3 linked regions of the Homo sapiens genome follow. The protein of the gene in region 3 interacts with the protein of the main gene of each other region in a pairwise test. Each region holds a gene or a part of one and is shown on either strand. Other genes may lie near its edges.

Region 1 (3,500 bases), on a different chromosome or scaffold from region 3:
CCTGGGTTCAAGTGATTCTCGTGCCTCAGCCTCCCAAGTAGCTGGAATTACAGGCATGGGCCACCACACCTGGCTAATTTTTGTATTTTTAGTGGAGATGGGGTTTTGCCATGTTGGTCAGGCTAGTCTCAAACTCCTGACCTCAAGTGATCCGCCTGCCTCGGCCTCCCAAAGTGCTGGGATTACAAGCGTGAGCCACGGCGCCCCAGCTCACCTTTAATGCTTACAACAAAGCCCGTTCACATTTTTGACAGAAGAGGAAACTGACCCTCACAGAGGGAAAGTGACTTGCCCGAGGGATGCTGCAGTTAAAACTCAACCACTTTTCCTGATTCCGAATCCAGTGCTCCTTCCCCTACCCCGACCCTATCTCGCCTTCCAGATGAGCACAGTCTCCAAGAAGGGAACTCTAGGAGGCGAACCCAAGCTCCACTGGATTCTGCATGTTCTCCCTCAAGCCCCCTGACCATGGGCCTGCAGACGCTCTGAGCATGCCTGCTGTCCCTGTTCTATCAGCTGTCTCCACGGGGTCCCTGGTTTCTCATGCCCAAGGAGTGGGTGACTTGGGTCCACAGACCATCAGTGCAAGAGCAGTCCACTCTTCCCCCATTTACAGATGAGACCGAGGCCAGAGAGGAAAGGAAGACTCCCCAGCAGTCCTGGCTCCCCACCATAGTGCCTAACACATGGCTTCCCTGCCCCCTACCCCATGCTCGCCTGCTCCACCCTCCTCTCCTGCCTCTGCACAGCATTCTGGGCACCTTCTCTCCCCCAGCCTGATCACTTTGTGCAGAAAGAGGTTGCTCAACTAGCCGGGCGTGGTGGTGGGCGCCTGTAATCCCAGCTACTTGGGAGGCTGAGCCAGAGAATTGCTTGAACCCGGGAGGCAGAGGTTGCAGTGAGCTGAGATCGCACCATTGCACTCCAGCCTGGGCGACAGAGCAAGACTCCATCTCAAAAAAAAGAAAGAAACCGGATGCTCATTGTTCACCTGGCCCCTAGACTTCAAGGGTGCGAAGCCTGGACCACAGGCTTGCTCCTGTCTGGGGCCATGCAAGCATGGAGCCAAGCAAGAGAACACTTAGGGTTGTCTGCTGGACAGACGAAGGAAGGCATGGCTGATGGTGGTGTGAGACGATGCGCCTGGCTGCTTTCCTTCCTGGCCCTAAGCACACTCTTCATACTCTCCAGCAGCAGCAGCAGGAACTTCTCCCTCACTCCTTGCCGTCCCCCCACTTCCATCTCTCCCTGTCCCTGCTCACCACTCCCCAGGTCCTCCACCCCCACTCCACCTCTCTGCCCTCATGTTTTTCTCTTCCCCATCTCTCCCCTCCCCGGCGCGCGCGTGCACACACACACACACACACACACACACACACACACACACACGGGTTCAAGAACCAGTGGAGCGAAATCTGTCCTTTGCCAGCCAAGCCCCAGCCTGTACCTCCAAGCCCTGCCTCCCACCCTGCCTCCCCTTCCCTGGTGTCACATTCCAATCTCAGATCCCCAGTGACCCACCAGGAACAGGGCACAGCTCTGCCTCAATCACTGGGGAACAGGATGAGCCAGTTTCTCCCAGCCCCCTCAGGAAGCAGCCTGGGGAAGCTGCCCGCCACCTCCCCCTGCCCCCCGACCCCACCAAGCCCCTCACCCCACTCATCTAAAGGCTGACAGCACAAGATCCACACAGACCTGAGCATGCCCTTGCTAAAGATCAAAGGGGCCCACGGGAGACAATGTTGGGGCTCTCACCCTCTCCACCTCACCTGGCCCTCCTGCCAGGAAGCATTTCTGAGCGTCCTGTGTTCTAGGCCTCGCCCTTGGCACTGGGCCGGAGAGAGCAAGGAGACGTGCTTTCAGGCCTCGATGCTTCAGCCTCATGGGGAGGACAGACACTGGCAGAATTGCCGATAATTCCGTGATAAACGCTATGCCACGAGTATAGACAAAGGGAGATGACTCATTCTGCCTCGGAGGTCAGAGGAGGAGGAGACAGGACGTCTGTTTTGGTCTGGGGCGGCAGGGAGGAAGGTGAGGGGCATCCCAGGTGGAAGGAACAGCCCAGCCCGATGCACAGAGGCAAGGATGCACATGGCTGCACCTTAACAAGGAGGTGCCAGCTGTGGCTGGAGGGGACAGGACTGAATGAGGACAGGGCAGGCAGAGGACACCAGAAATGGCCCTGGACAGCATGGGAAGAACTACAGATGGGACCTTTATTCATAAGGCAGCAGGAGCCACTGGAGGTTATCTGCTGGGTTTAGAACGATCGCTCTGACAGTGCTGCTGGCCAGCACCTGGGAGGGGACAGGATGGAGGCAGGGAGGCCAGTGAGGAGGTCCCAGCAACAGCCCAACCTCTTCCGCCACCATTCTTTCTGAGCCAAGTCCTCCCCTCTTGTTTGGCTACAGCACACAGGCCACATCCCTTCCAGCTTCCAAAGACTCGCTCTGCTCACTGTGTTCCCTCTGCCAGGAATGCTCCTCTCACTCTTACCTCGCCGTGCCTGAAGCACCTGCTCAAAGGCCCCTCCTCCAGGAAGCCTCCAGCTCTGGTCGAGGCCTTGGCTATGAGCTGGGTCCCAATCACCCACTGGGCTGTGACCTTCTTGTGGTCAAGTGCAGGGATGCTTCCTGCTTGGACCCCGACATTAAGCACAGAACTTTGGAAACAGTGGGTCCTTGGAAAATCCCTGTTCCCTTGGGCCCAGTGCCCAGGTGCCTCTCCCGCAGAGACGCTGCTCTGCGCACACCGTTGCTGTTGCACCTCCTCCCTCCCTGTGGAGCCACACGTTGGATAGGGGAGGAAAAAGACACCCATGCCATGGCCACAGGCAGCTGTGGAAAGCAATGCATTTCAAACATGGGCTGCCATGGAGATAGAACAGCAATAACAATACAACAATGACGGCAGCAATCAGCATTTATTGGCAAAAGCACTGCTCTAAACTTCATATGGATTAACTCACTGCATCTTTACTTCAGTACCGTGAGGTCTGTACTGTTATTCTCCTGATTGTAAAGATGGGGACACTGAGGCACAGAGAGGTAAATGGCCTGTTCAGTATGTGGTGGAGCCAGGAGTCAACCCAGAACTTGCCCTGAAGGACTTCGCCACACAACCAACCTCTCCAAGACAAACGGAGAGGAAAAAGGAAGCTGCCGAGGAAGAGCCCACAGTATGTCCTCACTTGGGGAAAAAGAAAACTATGCATGGATTGGTATATGTAATATACATACATACATACATATATATATATATATATATATATATATATATATATGCATTAAGTGAGTAACAAAAAGTCTGGAAGGATACGTTCAAACTATTAACTGGGGTTACCTGCAGGGAGGGTGCCAAGGGAACTTTTACTTTTACTACATATATTTCTGGCTTATTTGCATTTTTCACCCAAGTATCCAAGTGTTACTTGAGTAGTTTAACATGAGAGGAATTATTAGGGTTGCAATTAACATTTGTTGCATGAATAGATGGCA
Region 2 (3,500 bases), on a different chromosome or scaffold from region 3:
AAAGTGGTGGAACCAAGACACAGATATAAAACTTCTCACCCTAAATCCCGTGCTTTTCTCATTATATCACAGCTAATGAGTAATATAATGAGAGTGTCACATCATGGTAGAAGGACTAAATACTTCATGCCATCAGATGGTAGATTTCTTACTCCTAATCTGGTACTGTGAAAAAATAATTGGTGAAATAGTGACAAAATGGGTAAAAGTCAACATGGATATTAAGAGACTGTACTATTAAGCCTACAGTGCCTCCTTCTCAAAATGCTTAACTACTACATTAAGCAAAAAATAGTTAAAAGTGTTAGTCCTAAAGTTAGCAAGAAGATACAGTGTATTTTTATTGGATTACAAATATACATGAGAATACTCCAAGAGATGCATATTTTATATAAAAACATTCATATCACATCCATCAGTAAATGTCCTTAATTCTTAATTATCTGCGTCCAGTTGGAAAATTTTGTATTTTCTTGTGGCTCTCTCTCCCTTGCTATCTATGAGGGGGCCTGGAAAATAAAAGGGTAGAATGCAAATCTGTCAATGTGGTTGCTTATATTTTTCTTTCAAAAGTCTCCATTGAGAAAGTAAGTTGAAAAATGGTAACAATGTACTTACATAAATGTCTCCTAAATTATCTTTGTTGTCTGACTCTATTAGGAAGAATTATTTGTGTAGCAATTTTAAGTAGGTACAATCCAAACCATGCAGATCTTTTTTGTTTGGTTGTTTGTTTTTCTTTTTTTTTGTCAAAGTCTCACTCTGTGGCCCAGGCTAGAGTGCAGTGGCATGATGGCTCACTGCAAGCTCACTGCAAGCTCCGCCTCCCAGGTTCAAACTATTCTCCAGCCTCCTATAAGTAGCAATATATGCCTCTCCTACTCTCCTGAGTAGCTGAGATTACAGATGCACACCACCACGCCTGGCTAATTTTTGTATTTTCCCTAGAGATGGGGTTTCACCATGCAGATCTTGTAAAGCAGCGGTCTTCAACCTTCTTGACACCAGGGACTGGTTTCATGGAAGACAATCTTTCCACAGACTGGTGGCAGGGGATGGTTTCAGGATGATTCAATGATTCAAGCACATTTATTGTGCACTTTATTTCTATTATTATTATTATATCCTCACCATATTATTATTATATACTCACCATAATGTAGAATTAGTGGGAACCCTGACTGTTTTCCTGCAACTAGACGATCCCATCTGGGGATGATGGGAGACAGTGACAGATCATCAGGCATTCGATTCTCTTAAGGAACACAAAACATAGATCTCCTGCATGCACAGTTCACAATAGGGTTTGCGCTCCTATGAGAATCTAATGCCGTGGCTGATCTGACAGGAGTCAGAGCTCAGGCAGTCATGCTTGCTCGCATGCCCACCACTGCTGTGCAGCCTGGTTCATAACAGGCCACAGACAGGTACCCAGGGACCCCTGCAGTAAAAGACTCTAACCAAGAGCTGCTTCTCTCCCGAAAAGTAACAGTATACGTCAAGAAAGCTGCAGCAATATATTTATTGCAAAGGAACTAGACATTACATTAACCTGATGAAGATGTAACGATGCATGAAGCATAACTGGTGCAACATTTTTTAAAAATCACAAATGAAAAAGAAAATTCATTTTCAAAAGAAAATATTGTATCCAAGTCAGCTTAATCTCTGAACACCATAATATAACTCTTAATGTTGATTCTAAACATCCAGGATAAAGTTTACTTTAAACTGAATAAAAGAAAGAAAAGGTTTCTTTCCGAACTTCCCCAACAGATTCCTTGGCTACCATCGGTGCATCACACCCATAAAGTAATTGTCATCAACAGACCGTAAAAAGAAAAAACCCCTCCTACAAATAGAGAAATTCTCAGGAAATCCAAGCAACAAATCAATTAGTAGCCCCCAATTGAATGGGGCAGACAGAATCAGCATTTTCTAGAACTTAGAAGTTACATTAACTTTATTAATAAGATTTTATTGTCTTTTAAGAAACTGTATGGATTCAAGGGCACACTGAGCTATAACAAGTCATTATATACACACTGGGTAACAGTGCGGAGGGGGTTTCAGATGTTTGTCATCTGTTCATCAAAGCTTTCTGAAACCCCTAGAGCTTTACTATTCTACTCTATAATACATTTTCACTGTGTATAACAAACTCCCTTTGAAGAAAATTACCCCAGATAATCCATCTGTGAAAATACAAGTACTGCAAAAAGCAGTGAGGATAAATACTTTTTGGAAAGGCAAAAATGCTGCATCAACTTTCAGAGGCACTATCATAGAATCATCTCTGAAAAAGAGAACTGCAAATGTACTTTGAAAATTACTTTCCTTGCCTATACCCAGCATGCGTGAATGTCATCTAATGAGCTATTTGTAGGCTGAGGAAGTGAAGAGTTGAAATGCAGAATTGCAGGTTTTAGTTGAGCTGGTAACACTGGTACCACTTTCTTTTTTCCCTTCCAATGGATTTCAACAGTTTGTTCCTAAACATTTCACAGTTCTCAAAACTTTTCACATAAAAGGGGAAGATTATTAAAGCTTATTAGATTCTGTCAATTGGTCAAAAGAAAAAATGTATTTCAACACAGCTTGTCATCTTTGGAAAAAATCAATCATAATTACGTTTCCTTATACTGAATTTAAGGTAGAGAGACCTAAATTACAAGCACTCACAATTTGGTGGGAAAGTGGCAAATCCTTGTCATTTGGTGACTGTGGCACCAAATAAAGAGGAATTCATTCACAACTGAATGAGTTATTCAAATAAAAAAAGCAGAAAGCTAATCTAGACATTTTAGGTCCTAAATTAAATTTTTCAGGTGTGATATTTTTAGTTTGAGTAATAATGCTGGTCTAGTTTGCTAAAAAATTAGCAACATTCTCCTTTACCTTGAGCTGGGTAGACTCAGCCACAATGTCCTACTGTCTCTTTATGTATGTTTAAAGTAATGCCTAACCAGACTCATAATGCATGTAGATGCAACATGCTAGTTGGCACAAAGCAGGCAGGGAGAAATGACCCTACCTTCCCAAAAAACTCACAGGAGCATGACCAGTAATCATTTTCCTCATATAGACAATGTCAGTAGATATCAAGACAGATACACATAAAGTTACATAAATGTTTCCACCTTTTCACCATTGAGTGAAACATGCTGTTCTTTGGAGAAAAAAATACATTCATTTTTTTCAAGTATATTGCAATATACAAAGATGCTCTGGCTTTGTTTCACTATAAAGACAAAAAGATTTCACATATGTCCAAGGGAAATTTCAGTTTACCTTTCCTTTGGTGTGGATTTCATGAAGTTCTGACTAAAAAAATTAATCTAAATATACATCTACTCATTTTATCTGAAAGCATGAACTATGTTCATTTTATATATATATTTATATGTACATAGCAACAACAAAAACCAGTCTACATATGTCCAATGGCTTAGGATTGGCATGCTCTGATGAGCACGAGGTCCACCTGCTGTGACTAGGCG
Region 3 (5,292 bases):
TGCGTCACTGGAATTCTGACCAAAAATAAAGGCATAAATTAGCTTGGGGAAAACTGTCCTGGATATCAATTAATATTTATTTTCTGAATATGAATAATCTATAAACTTTTTAGTAAGTCCACTCCAAAACACAATAAAAATTATTAAAATATTGCTTCTAAATACCCTACAAGCAAAAATATCAACACGTGAATGAGTAAAATAATTCTTCAAAGGTTCGTGGATAAAGAAATCATAGACAGTGGGTTTGAACAGCCACTTAAGAGGTCAAAAGCTACTAAAGAAATAATGATGAAAATCAGTTTTGGAAAATCAAAGAAAATTATTTGGAAGATTACATTAGCCCCTGATTTACAAATGCATTTTTCAGAAAGGGAGCCATACTACAATGCTCACGAGATCAAACTAAAACACAGACTTAACTCATGTCTTTACAGGAAACAATTCAAGTAAGGTGATATACACACATTTTCAGAAGGCAAATCCCGGGTGTACTCTGAGAACCAATATATAAAGTATCAGTGTGTTTACATTTTATAGTTTATAAAGTGATTTCATCATTTGATCTTTATAATCTATGAATTTTCAGAGCAAATATTATCTTCTTTGTATGAAAAAACAAACTGAAGCTCAGATATGTTAAATGATTGGCCTAGTCATACAGTTCAAGATCGATCCAGTACTTGAACCCAGATGTCCTAATTTCACACCATATTTATCTATAGCTGTTACCTTAACCCTAAATGTATGCTGGGACTCAAAACGTTCAAACTCAGTAACATAAATCTACTTGCCAATGTCTCTGGAAAATTTATTACTACACTTCAGAGGTGATGCCAAATTTGGTGCTTTAACTTTATAAACGGTAAAACTGTTAACTCTGGGACCACTGCCTATAAACCTTACCTTCACATCAAAGGAAGGCTTGAAGAGTTTGTCCTTGGACAGGAATTTTGATGGTGTATCCAGGTGTAACGAGGGCTCCTTCTGAAGTGGTTGTCCTACTGCTGGGGAGGCTGCGACCTGTCTGGCATGTTGTGAGACCACAGCACGGAAAGCTTTACTCTGAAAGCGGTTCATATCTAAAGGTGTAACGACGGTTTTTCTGTGAGTTTGCAGGCGTGTGCCAGGATGCTCTGCAGTATCTGAATTTAGATTGATTCCATTTGTTATTTCTGTTTCCAAACTTCGTTCTAGAGATTTAAAATGAAAAGAAACAAATATGAGCCACTAATGCCCACTTTTTCCCGGTACACAAGAAGTAATATTTTATACTGTTTTCTTTCCTTTCTTTCTTGCATAACTCCTGGGCTCAAGAGATCCATCTACCTCGGCATCCTAATCTGTTAGTTTTCATGTCAATTCTCAGGTACACTTTAAATCACAAAATTATATACCTACTTTCCAAGAAACAAACCAGATTATGCATTAAATATATGTTGAGTTAGACAAGCACATTAACTGAAAAAATAATAATAGATTTCCTGTTTCATCTTGCTATGTCTCAATAAGCCTATTTGCCAAAAATTGTTATCAGTGAATGTCTTTCTAGTCAATGACAGAGTAAAAAGAAAAATCTCAATTACAGGTACTCAGAGTTAACTACAGTCTAGTTTTGGAAAGTCCTTAATCAAATTTTAATATGACCTGAACATCACTTAGCCTCAGTCATAAAATTACCAGTCTGTCTGGCAAAATAAGTAATGACTCTGAGAGGTATTCCCAAGCTGCTGATATGTCCCTGAAGTTTGCCCATGGATGCTATTATCTTACAAGAGAGGGTACTGTATTCTTCCACCTATGCCTTCCACCTTTTTTCAACATTTAACAAAAAACCTTATTAGATAGCTACTCCATGCCAGGCCTAGTGTTAGACATGGGAAATACAGAATTCACAAGACATGCATGTTCACTGCCTTTCTGGAACTTTAAATTTAGCAGGAAGACACAAAATAAACAACCATTATAACACTGAGGTAAGAGATAAAAGGGATGATACAGAGTGTCATGGTGAAACAAAAAACATTATACCAAGACAAAGGCCATCCTTGGTGAGTCAAGAATGCTTCCCAAGACAGTGTGGCGATTCCTCAAAGATCTAGAACTAGAAATACCATTTGACCCAGCGATCCCATTACTGGGTATATACCCAAAGGATTACAAATCATGCTACTATAAAGACACATGTACACATATGTTTATTGCAGCACTATTCACAATAGCAAAGACTTGGAACCAACCCAAATGTCTATCAATGATAGACTGGATTAAGAAAATGTGGCACATATACACCATGGAATACTATGCAGCCAGAAAAAAGGATGAATTCATGTCCTTTGTCGGGACATGGATGAAGCTGGAAACCATCATTCTGAGGAAACTATCACAAGGACAGAAAACCAAACACCGCATGTTCTCACTCATAGATGGGAATTGAACAGACACAGGGCAGGGAACATCACACACCGGGGCCTGTCGTAGGATGGGGGGATGGGGGAGGGATAGTATTAGGAGAAATACCTAATGTAAATGACGAATTAATGGGTGCAGCAAACCAACATGACACATGTATACATATGTAACAAACCCGCATATTGTGCACATGTACCCCAGAACTTAAAGTGTAATAATAATTAAAAAGAAAAAATGAAAGGCTTCCCAGGGAAAGTGGTATCTTAGCTGAGAACTGAAAGATAAGCAGGAAGAGCAGGCAACTGTGAGGTGGTCTACAGGAAACATGCAGAAGCCCAAAGATAAGAGGAGAGATAGCATGTTAATTATATAGTGTGTTACTATGAGCCATAGAAAGAATCAACAGTAAATAGGAGCCAAGCTTACATCTGTAGACTTCGAACACTGAGACCCTCACTGCACCCAATGTGAAAAGCAAAAATCAATGACCCTTCCTAAACACAAGCATTGGCACATTTATATCCCAGAAACCATCTAGTTGTAAATATATATAAAAGAACAGAATAAAAGTATTAACCTTCTTTAGTTGAATTTTCAATCAGAAAATGGCTTTCGTCTGCTCTCTTTCCCGTTCTAGCAGTCTCCAACAGCCAAGCTATAGTAACGGCAGGTAAATTCCACTTCTTTGCAGCTTCATATTTAGAGCCACCACGTTCTTTCAGTATAAGATGAGTACTGGCAAACATGCCTTTCTTTGCATTGGATTTGCGAACAAAGTATTCTTGAACACTGAAATTTATGTTTAAAGAAGTGGAAATGGTCACATATACAATTAACCCGCAAAACTAACAAAATTTCCAACACAACAGTGTGGTTAGAGATCATGTAAGTATAAAAAAAAATACTGATTAAAAGTTGGTTTACTCTATCTGAAATTAAGCTAATCCCCTTACAAATGCTTACTCTAGGGTAAAAATGTATTGCTGTAACAAACTTTTTATAAAAACATAATTAGACATGCAAAGAACAGACAGCAAAAATCCTTTTGAGACAGGGTCTTGCTATGTTGTCCAGACTGGAGTGCAGTGGCACAATCACAGCTCACTGCAACCTCCGCCTCCCAGGCTCAAGCCATCCTCCCACCTCAGCCTCCCCAGTACCTAAGACTACAGGTGTACACCACCACACCTGGCTAATTTTTGTATTTTTTGTAGAGATGGGGTTTCACAATGTTGCCTAGCCTGGTCTCGAACTCCTGAGCTCAAGTGATCCTCCTGCCTCAGCCTCCTAAAGTTGGGATTACAGGCGTGAACCACCTCACACAGCCAAAATTACCTCCTTAATTAGTTATCACCCCCACACCTTGTCCTTTCCTCCCAAAAGAAGGCACAGAAAAAATGACAGGAGCAAAGTGTATAAATAACATTATTATTATTTTTTAACCTACTACAACTTTCCAAAGCATTTCTACATATTATCTCATTTGATCCTCTCAATATTTAAGTATAGACATGGGAAAAAATACAGAGAAATTAAGTGCCTCAAGATCATAGGATATTAAACACAGAGAATACGGGGCAGAAAAAGAAGTCTACGACTTGAGATTGAACAGAATTCCGTGATTTCTTTTATGACTTCTGGGTTTTATGTTCTAGTTCCCAACTTTTCAGATTTTTAAATTTCCCATGTTTCCTAGCACTTTTTTTTTCTATGTTTTGTGTTTATCTTAGTACTTTTATAATTTCATTTTTTACATTTAACCCACCAATCCATTCAGTACTTATTTAGATATGAGATACTGCTCCAACTTTAATGAATCCTATTTATTGAATAAGCCATGTCTTCCTTATATATATTTGAAATGTCACTTGTATCGTAAATTCCTTTTTACATTTGGGTCTCCTGCTACATTTGCTGTCCATTAATTAAACTTTCTGCTACACGTAACCACACTGTTATTTAGTGAAGTTTCACAAAATATATATTTGTTTGTTTGTTTTCTGAGACAGGGTCTTGCTCTGTCCTCCAGGCTAGAGTACAGTGGCGCCACTGTGACTCACTGCAGCCTTGACCTCCCAGGCTCAAACAATCCTCCCACCTCAGCCTCCCAAATAACTGAGACTACAGATTTATGCTACATTGCCTGGCTCATTTTTAAAATTTTTTGTAAAGACAGGGTCTCAGTATATTGTCCAGGCTGGTGTTGAACTTGGCCTCCTGCCACGGCCTCTCAAAGTGCTAGGATTACAGGCATGAACCACCAGACCTGGCCACAAAATATATTTTAATAACTGTTAGGGCTAGTCCCAATTATTCTATTTCAGAATTTGCATGACTTTCCTGCTGAGTACAGCTTTAGCTGTATCCAGTGGAGTCTGTCATCATGTATGTTATTATCTTCCACAATTTCAGTTTTAAAAGAATTTTATTATTTCATATAATTCAAACAGAAAACAGCAAAAAAAGAAATATACAGCTATACGAATTATTATAAGGTGAAACCCTTAAGTCCACCACCCAGGTCAGAAGACAGAATCTTGCTAACTACCCCAGAACCTCTCCAACATGCCATATAAACCCCCTTCCCTCCCTTCTTAATAGTAGCCACTATTTGGGCTTTTTTTTGGAGACAGGATCTCATTTTGTTGCCCTGGCTGGAGTATAGTTGTGTGATCATAGCTCACTGCAGCCCTGGTCTCCTGGGCTCAAGTAATCCTCCTGCCTTAGCCTCCCGAGTAGCTGGGACCATAGGCACATGCCACCATGCCTGGCTCATTTTTTTTTATTATTTTTTAAATAGAGACGAGGTCTCACTATGTTGTACAGGCTGGTCTTGAACTCCTGAGCTCAAGCAATCTTTTAGCCTCCCGAGTGCTGGGA

Evidence for each region. The genes of interacting proteins can lie anywhere in the genome.
Region 1: the proteins of TOPBP1 (region 3) and RAI1 interact in a two-hybrid assay, tested with the Homo sapiens proteins (one study listed by BioGRID).
Region 2: the proteins of TOPBP1 (region 3) and TBC1D4 interact in a two-hybrid assay, tested with the Homo sapiens proteins (one large-scale study listed by IntAct).

What each region holds. Positions count from the first base shown.
Region 1 is NC_000017.11:17,684,458-17,687,957, reverse strand, and holds part of RAI1 (retinoic acid-induced protein 1), read right to left. Parts: exon of another isoform or gene 1,770-3,500; intron 1-1,769. UniProt on the Homo sapiens protein: Transcriptional regulator of the circadian clock components: CLOCK, BMAL1, BMAL2, PER1/3, CRY1/2, NR1D1/2 and RORA/C. Positively regulates the transcriptional activity of CLOCK a core component of the circadian clock.
Region 2 is NC_000013.11:75,283,170-75,286,669, forward strand, and holds the end of TBC1D4 (TBC1 domain family member 4), read right to left. Parts: 3' UTR 334-3,500; downstream 1-333.
Region 3 is NC_000003.12:133,636,970-133,642,261, forward strand, and holds part of TOPBP1 (DNA topoisomerase 2-binding protein 1), read right to left. Parts: intron 3,202-5,292; coding exon 2,990-3,201; intron 1,194-2,989; coding exon 907-1,193; intron 1-906. UniProt on the Homo sapiens protein: Scaffold protein that acts as a key protein-protein adapter in DNA replication and DNA repair. Composed of multiple BRCT domains, which specifically recognize and bind phosphorylated proteins, bringing proteins together into functional combinations.